Linked DNA regions of Homo sapiens. The protein of the gene in region 2 purifies or fractionates together with the protein of the main gene of each other region. This does not show direct contact. Each region holds a gene or a part of one and is shown on either strand. Other genes may lie near its edges.

Evidence for each region.
Region 1: the proteins of SLC5A12 (region 2) and MELTF purify together in Homo sapiens (affinity purification with mass spectrometry; one large-scale study listed by BioGRID and IntAct). This does not show direct contact.

Annotation. Positions count from the first base shown.
Region 1 is NC_000003.12:197,003,380-197,005,828, forward strand, and holds part of MELTF (melanotransferrin isoform 1 preproprotein), read right to left. Parts: intron 1,366-2,449; exon of another isoform or gene 1,115-1,365; intron 981-1,114; exon of another isoform or gene 802-980; coding exon of another isoform or gene 721-801; coding exon 522-720; exon of another isoform or gene 223-521; intron 73-222; coding exon 1-72. UniProt on the Homo sapiens protein: Involved in iron cellular uptake. Seems to be internalized and then recycled back to the cell membrane. Binds a single atom of iron per subunit. Could also bind zinc.
Region 2 is NC_000011.10:26,666,476-26,670,176, forward strand, and holds the end of SLC5A12 (sodium-coupled monocarboxylate transporter 2), read right to left. Parts: 3' UTR 545-3,701; downstream 1-544. UniProt on the Homo sapiens protein: Acts as an electroneutral and low-affinity sodium (Na(+))-dependent sodium-coupled solute transporter.

The DNA.
Region 1 (2,449 bases), on a different chromosome or scaffold from region 2:
CGGGCGGGAGCAGGCGGGCGGCGAGGGCGGGCAGCAGCAGCGGGAGCAGGGGCGCCCCGGGCGCCGGGGCCGCTGGGGACGAACGCGGCGGGTCAGGCCCCGAAGCCCGGGCCGCGGTGGCCGCCTCAGGCGCCCGCTCTGGGGTGGGGGTGGGGGCATCTTTCGGGACCGAACTCGCCGCAGCCTCCCTCTTTGTGCTCCTTTCCCCTGCTGCCCTTCCAGATGCGCTCTTTCCAGAAAGGCAGCACACGCATGTCTCTGCCGTGGCCCCAGATCCTCCCCGCGCCGCCGTTTTGAGCGTTCACACTCATTACCCAGGTCCGTCTGGGAGACCCGCCGGGCTCCCGCCCTCCCGGCCCGCAGCCTCCTGGCCAAAATCCTCCCGGGACACCCCACCTGGACTGCTGCGAACGGGCCTCCACCCGCCTCCCCGGACCCGCAGCGCCCCCCGCTCCCTCAGGGTTCTGGGGTGAAGGGGTCTGAATAGCACCAGGGGAGGCGGCAGGGCGGGCCTGTCCTACCTGCGCCCGAGCACTGCTGAGACGACATCCCTTCCAGCGCCGCCACGTAGTCCAGCCCCAGCCAGCCGCGGTAGGTGGTTTTCTCTCCGACAGGCACCGCCCGGACGGTGGCATCCTTGAAAAGCAGGTCTTGGCCATGATAGTTGGAGGAGTCGAACATTTTGAACCCGTTCTTATTGTGGTCGTCTCCAAACAGGTCCTGGAAGCACCGCAGGCAGACGACCTGCTCCTCACTGGGCTCAGGCAGGGTCACCCGCCCAGTGCCGCTAGCTGCAAATTGCTTTACATACAGTGACCCAAAGAGCAAGTCATTTCAGGGCCCCACCACTCTGATTGGAAGTCATAAGCTTGACAACTGATTGGCCTCTGTCACCCAAGCGGGTGTGGGGACACTAGGCCCGCAGGTGCCACTGGAAGAGGCGTTCAGAAGCACTGCGGTGCTCCAGCTCCTGGATGCAGGTCTGAGGCCTGAGATGTCCAGGAAGAAAGACCCAGAAATGAGGGATGGTGTGGGTGGGATTCCTGAGCGTTCTGCTAGGCCTGCTGAGCACTTCTTGGCCTTTTCCATAAGGCTTTCTCACTCTGTCTTACAGATATCTCCCCACAAACCTAAACAATTTCGAGAGGGACTTGTGTTCTGCAACCAGTCACAGAATATCAGGTGAGCTGGGCGTGTCTTCACTGACCCACCCGCCCAGGGATGCTGCACTCCTCTCCACCCTGCTCAGAATCACTAGAATGACCGTTCTGTGGCTACAGCCCTAAAAGAGCTACTAAAAAGACCAGAAGTAGTATGAGAACTTATGAATACGAATATAAATAAAGGACATCTGGAGAACATGCATGAATGTCTATGTAAAGTGTTAAGTACTGATCAAGGAGGAACGAAGGAGTCAGGTGGCTCTCAGTCTTTTTGGAGGGACTCGCAGATCCTCCTGAAGATCTGATGAAAGCTGTCAGCCTTCTCCCCAGAAAAATGCACATCCACCCAGGATTCTTCTCCCACATTACTTCAGAGGACTTAGCAACCCCCTAGGGAAGCCCAGGGACCCAGAGTAAAGCACTCCTGGGATAGAGGGGTTCTGTGGGGAAGATGACAGGAAGGAACATGCGTCAGTTCACAATGTCAAAGTTTAGGAACAGGCCTGGCGAGCCAGCCAGCTCTGCAGTTCTGTGGTGCTGGTGGGTGTGGAGAAGGCAATTTCAGCATAAGTCGGGGGAGGGGGAGTGGTTAGAAACCAGTGGCTCCATTGTGAGACAACCTGGGTTTAAATTCTAGGTATATTTTGAAAGCACAACCAATGGGATCTGCTGATAGATTGGCTGTAGAGCACGAGAGGAAGACCGGAGTCAAAAATGACTCCCGAGGAAATGGAAAAGCTAAAGTTGCTCTTAATTGAAGTGGGGAAGACTGAAGGAGGGACGGGGGTCCAACTTTGGACTTGATCCATTTGAGATGACTGTTAGAAACACAAGTCAAAATGTCAAGTATGTAGTTAAATATGCAAGTTTGGGACTGATGTCTGAAGATGTAAATTTAGAAGCCATCTGTATATAGATGGTATTTGATGACATGGGATTGGATGAGATCAAGGGTAAGCTGTAGACAGGGAAGAGGGCTGAGAACTGAATCCTAGGGCTAACAGGTCAGGGAGATGGGGAGGAAATCAGCAGAGAAGACTGAGGAGTGGCCAGAGAGTGAGAGGACAGCCAGGCAGGGCTGAGGACCTGGGCATCTGCAGGGGAAGGTGTTTCCAGGAGGAGGGAGAGCTGTGGCCAGTGCCACTGAGAGGTCAAGTAAAATGAAGACTGAGAAATGGCCACTGGGTTTAGCAACATGGGTCACTGTGACCTTGACAAGAACAGCTTCAGGGCCCTGGTGGGAGCCTGTCTGGGGTAGTCTCCATCCTTAAGAGGGGCCAGAGGAG
Region 2 (3,701 bases):
TCACATTGATAATTCCAATGCACTTACATTGGAACTTAATTTAAAAAATTTTTAAATAATTATATATAAATTATATACCTATACTTGTTTATAGGCATTTTTCCTAATCTTAACTAGTTGTATAAACAACATTAGATTTAGATGTATTCTAGGATTCTGAAATTAAAAAGCTGCAAAAGATTTTGAAAATACAAAAATATCACATTAAATGTCCTATCGATGTACTGAAATATCATTATCAATGAACATCTTGCTCCACAGGGTAAGATTATTTTTCTAATTTATGATGACAGCCTGACACTTCAAGAAAGGGTCATGTTGTGATTAAGAAGTTACATACTTATGAGCTTAACTCTTTGTCTTCTGAAGATGGCTAATATTTGAAACACCAAAGTATAATATTGGAAAAATGGGCTTGTGCATGTTTGTTATTCACATGAGTATTTGCAAATCTACATTGATTTACTCAGGAGATTGGGGTGGGAGAGGAAACAATGATATTATCTGTTTCCAAGAATTACCAATAAAATCTACCCATTAGTAATTTACTATCAATGACGAGTTACATTTTATTAGTTTATAAATTTGTATCATTTTCATGTGTACCATTGATGACATCAATTAAATTTTAGTTATTTGAAAATAGGTTATACTACAAGATTATAAATGCTAGATAAAAGCAGTTAACTCTATAGTAAACCTAGCTAATTTGCAATATTGAGATTAAGTACATGAGACTTGTAAATATACAAATGTGCATGTACATACAGCTATAACTTCTGTAATAATTTAAAACAATTTATTTCAAAGGGAACAATTAAGGGGAGACTCCTCTATTTTTTCCGTATCTGATCTTTGTAATAATGTTTGATTAAGACTGTAACAGCACAAAAATATTTCAGTAATATTCTCTTTGAAATACTGTTTGAAAGCCACATGGCCAATGGTTTACTTTTTGTTTCTCTTTAGAATGAAATGGTGTAACCCTATAAAGCCACAAAATAGTAAAGTTCATTTTTAGCAAATACTATATAAACAAAGGGAAAAGACCCTCCCCACCTTCTGTTGCTATTTTGAGAGTCATAGTTGCTTTGAACTGTGCAATGAGTAATAAACTTGGGTTGAGATGCTGTTTATTTATCAAGGTTTACATGTACAAAATAATAATAAATCATAGTAATGAATTGCATCTTTTAGTAATAAACTTGTTTATAACAGTAGTTTTCTCTCTTTTCAGAATTTAGGACCTTTAGAAAAGTTACTCTCTGGAAAATAATATTTTATTTAAACTCTGGCATTAAAAAAACTACTCTTTGGAAATTTAGGCATGACTTTTAATGTATACATTCTGTTTTTCTTATTATTTCTAATTCTCAAAATAGTAACATATATTCTGATCCCACATCTTAAAAATCCTGAAGAGAAATAATGAAACCATTTAAGTTAACATGTACACCATTTTCTTCATATACTGCAGACCAAGTATTAAATGTTCCATGTGGGCCAGTCACACTGTGCTAAGCACTTTATATGATTTACTTATATAAATCTTCATAATAATTCTATTAAGTAGGGGTAATTTTTACTCCTATTAATTGGTGAATAAACTAAGATTTTAAAATATTGCCCAAAATTACCTAGATTTGTGTCAGAACTCGTGTTTGAACCTAAGCCATTTGACTGCAGTTCCTCACCTCAATCATAAGCTGTTGTAGTTCTTATTCCAAATGGTGACAAAAAATGTCTGTCATCAAAATGAATTCATACAGAATGAGTTAAAGAGGTATTGAGGTAATTCTGTTCCATTTTTACCAATATCTGTGGTTGTGCTTTAAAGGTACAGTGGTGAGTATCAAGTTTGGAACATTTTAGGCCCCTCTAAAACTCATCATTCCTAGTGCCATTTATTGAGAATGTCTCTGGTCATGCTGTGGCAAAAACAGCCACAAGTTTAACCCTCTTCCATGGTATGGATGGAACTTGTCACTGAACTGTCTTTGTACTGCACCAGTGGCCTTGGCATGACTCTGGGCTGCTAATCCTAGTGAGGGCCTGAAAGGAGTGCTGGGACTCACTAGCTGAATCTATTGACTGTGCGCTTCATAGTTTCCTTTTGCTTCACCACACAACAAACACGGTTTTCATACACTATGGAAGACAGTTTCCTGTAGATTCCCATCTGCTCTCTACCTGAAACCCTAGATTTATGCATGTTTGTTCAATTAAGAAGAATGGGGGGAGTCTCTACATTGACCTCTAAAATCTCTTGAAATGTCATCTCCTAATGCCATAAATTTCATTACACAAGAGAAGGCAGAGATATTTTTATAATAATAATTGCATTTTCCAGTTGTATGACATTTTGATAACACTCCAGGTAAGATAATTAGGGACTATAAAAGAAGAAACGTTTTTAAAACTTTCTCGGAAATGTACTGACCTAGTGAAATGTCTTTAGGAGAATTTGTGAGTAAAATTTGTGAGTAAAATGAAAAATTGTATGGTATATTTTGCTTTTATGCTATCCCAAGTGGAAGTTCACAATCCTGATGTATTCCAAATCATATTTACATATATATGTGTACAGATATATATATGTATATGCATATGTAATACCTACCATTAATTTATTCTCATCCTCAGAATTGCTGTTTTTTTATTCTTTCTGTCTCTCTCTTCCTCTTCCTGTCTTTTTCTTTCTTTCTTTCTTCTTTTCTTTCTTTCTTTCTTTCTTTCTTTCTTTCTCTCTCTCCCTCCCTCTTTCTTTCTCTCTTCTTTCCCTAAGATATTAATAAAGCTAACTAGTTTTGGCTCAGATTTCAATATTCACAAAATATATATTCTAATTAATAAGAGTGTCACAAATCATTTGGAAAATAATTGCACCTCTCAATTTGCAAATCCTTAGATCAACAGCTTAATTAGCGTTGCCAGACTTTAAAAAATGTTTCCAAAAATTCTGCTCCTTCTCATTTTCAGATATTTCTCCAAATGTGACCCCTTTTGACCCTTTCCCTCTATTCCCAAATGTATTTTTTTCTCATCTCTCTTATAAACTGTAGCCTAATACCTTCTTTCTCTTTCTCCATTCTCCTTTTCTATTTGAGTGGAGGGAGAGAAGGCAAGGATTGGGCTCTGTTTTATAAACTCCAGTTTCTCTGTTTTAATTCCTCCACTGATTTGTCTGTCTTTCTATCTTTTCTAATAATAAATACTGGTAATTTATTTTTTCTCTATTGTATGCTTCTTTCAAGGCTTTCTCTTTTGAGAAATATTTAAAGACAACCTTTGGATTTCCTTATCCTTGCCTATTTGGACCATTTCTTCTTACTTTGCTAACACACTGTTTCTAGGCCTTTTGCTTTTATCTGGCCACCAAAATAAATATCTGACACCTGTCCTAATATATGACTCTCAGATACAACTTTGTTTCTTATTATCTGTCCTCTGACTTGGCCCCTGTGACATACTGGTTCTTTCTTTTACCTTTTCAGAATTTCACTTCTTCACTTCTTCCAAAAATCTTTCACTGCTCCTTCATTTGTCAACTCGCCTTTTAATCTGCAATACCCTCATTCTCCAGAACTTTAAACATTATTTTCTAGACACGAACTATGAAGTTCTCCACTTCTGTTACCTAACCCAGGTGGAGTGAGTTGAGCTTGCTCACATGAGTTGAATGAGCAGAGTACAAGTCTTAT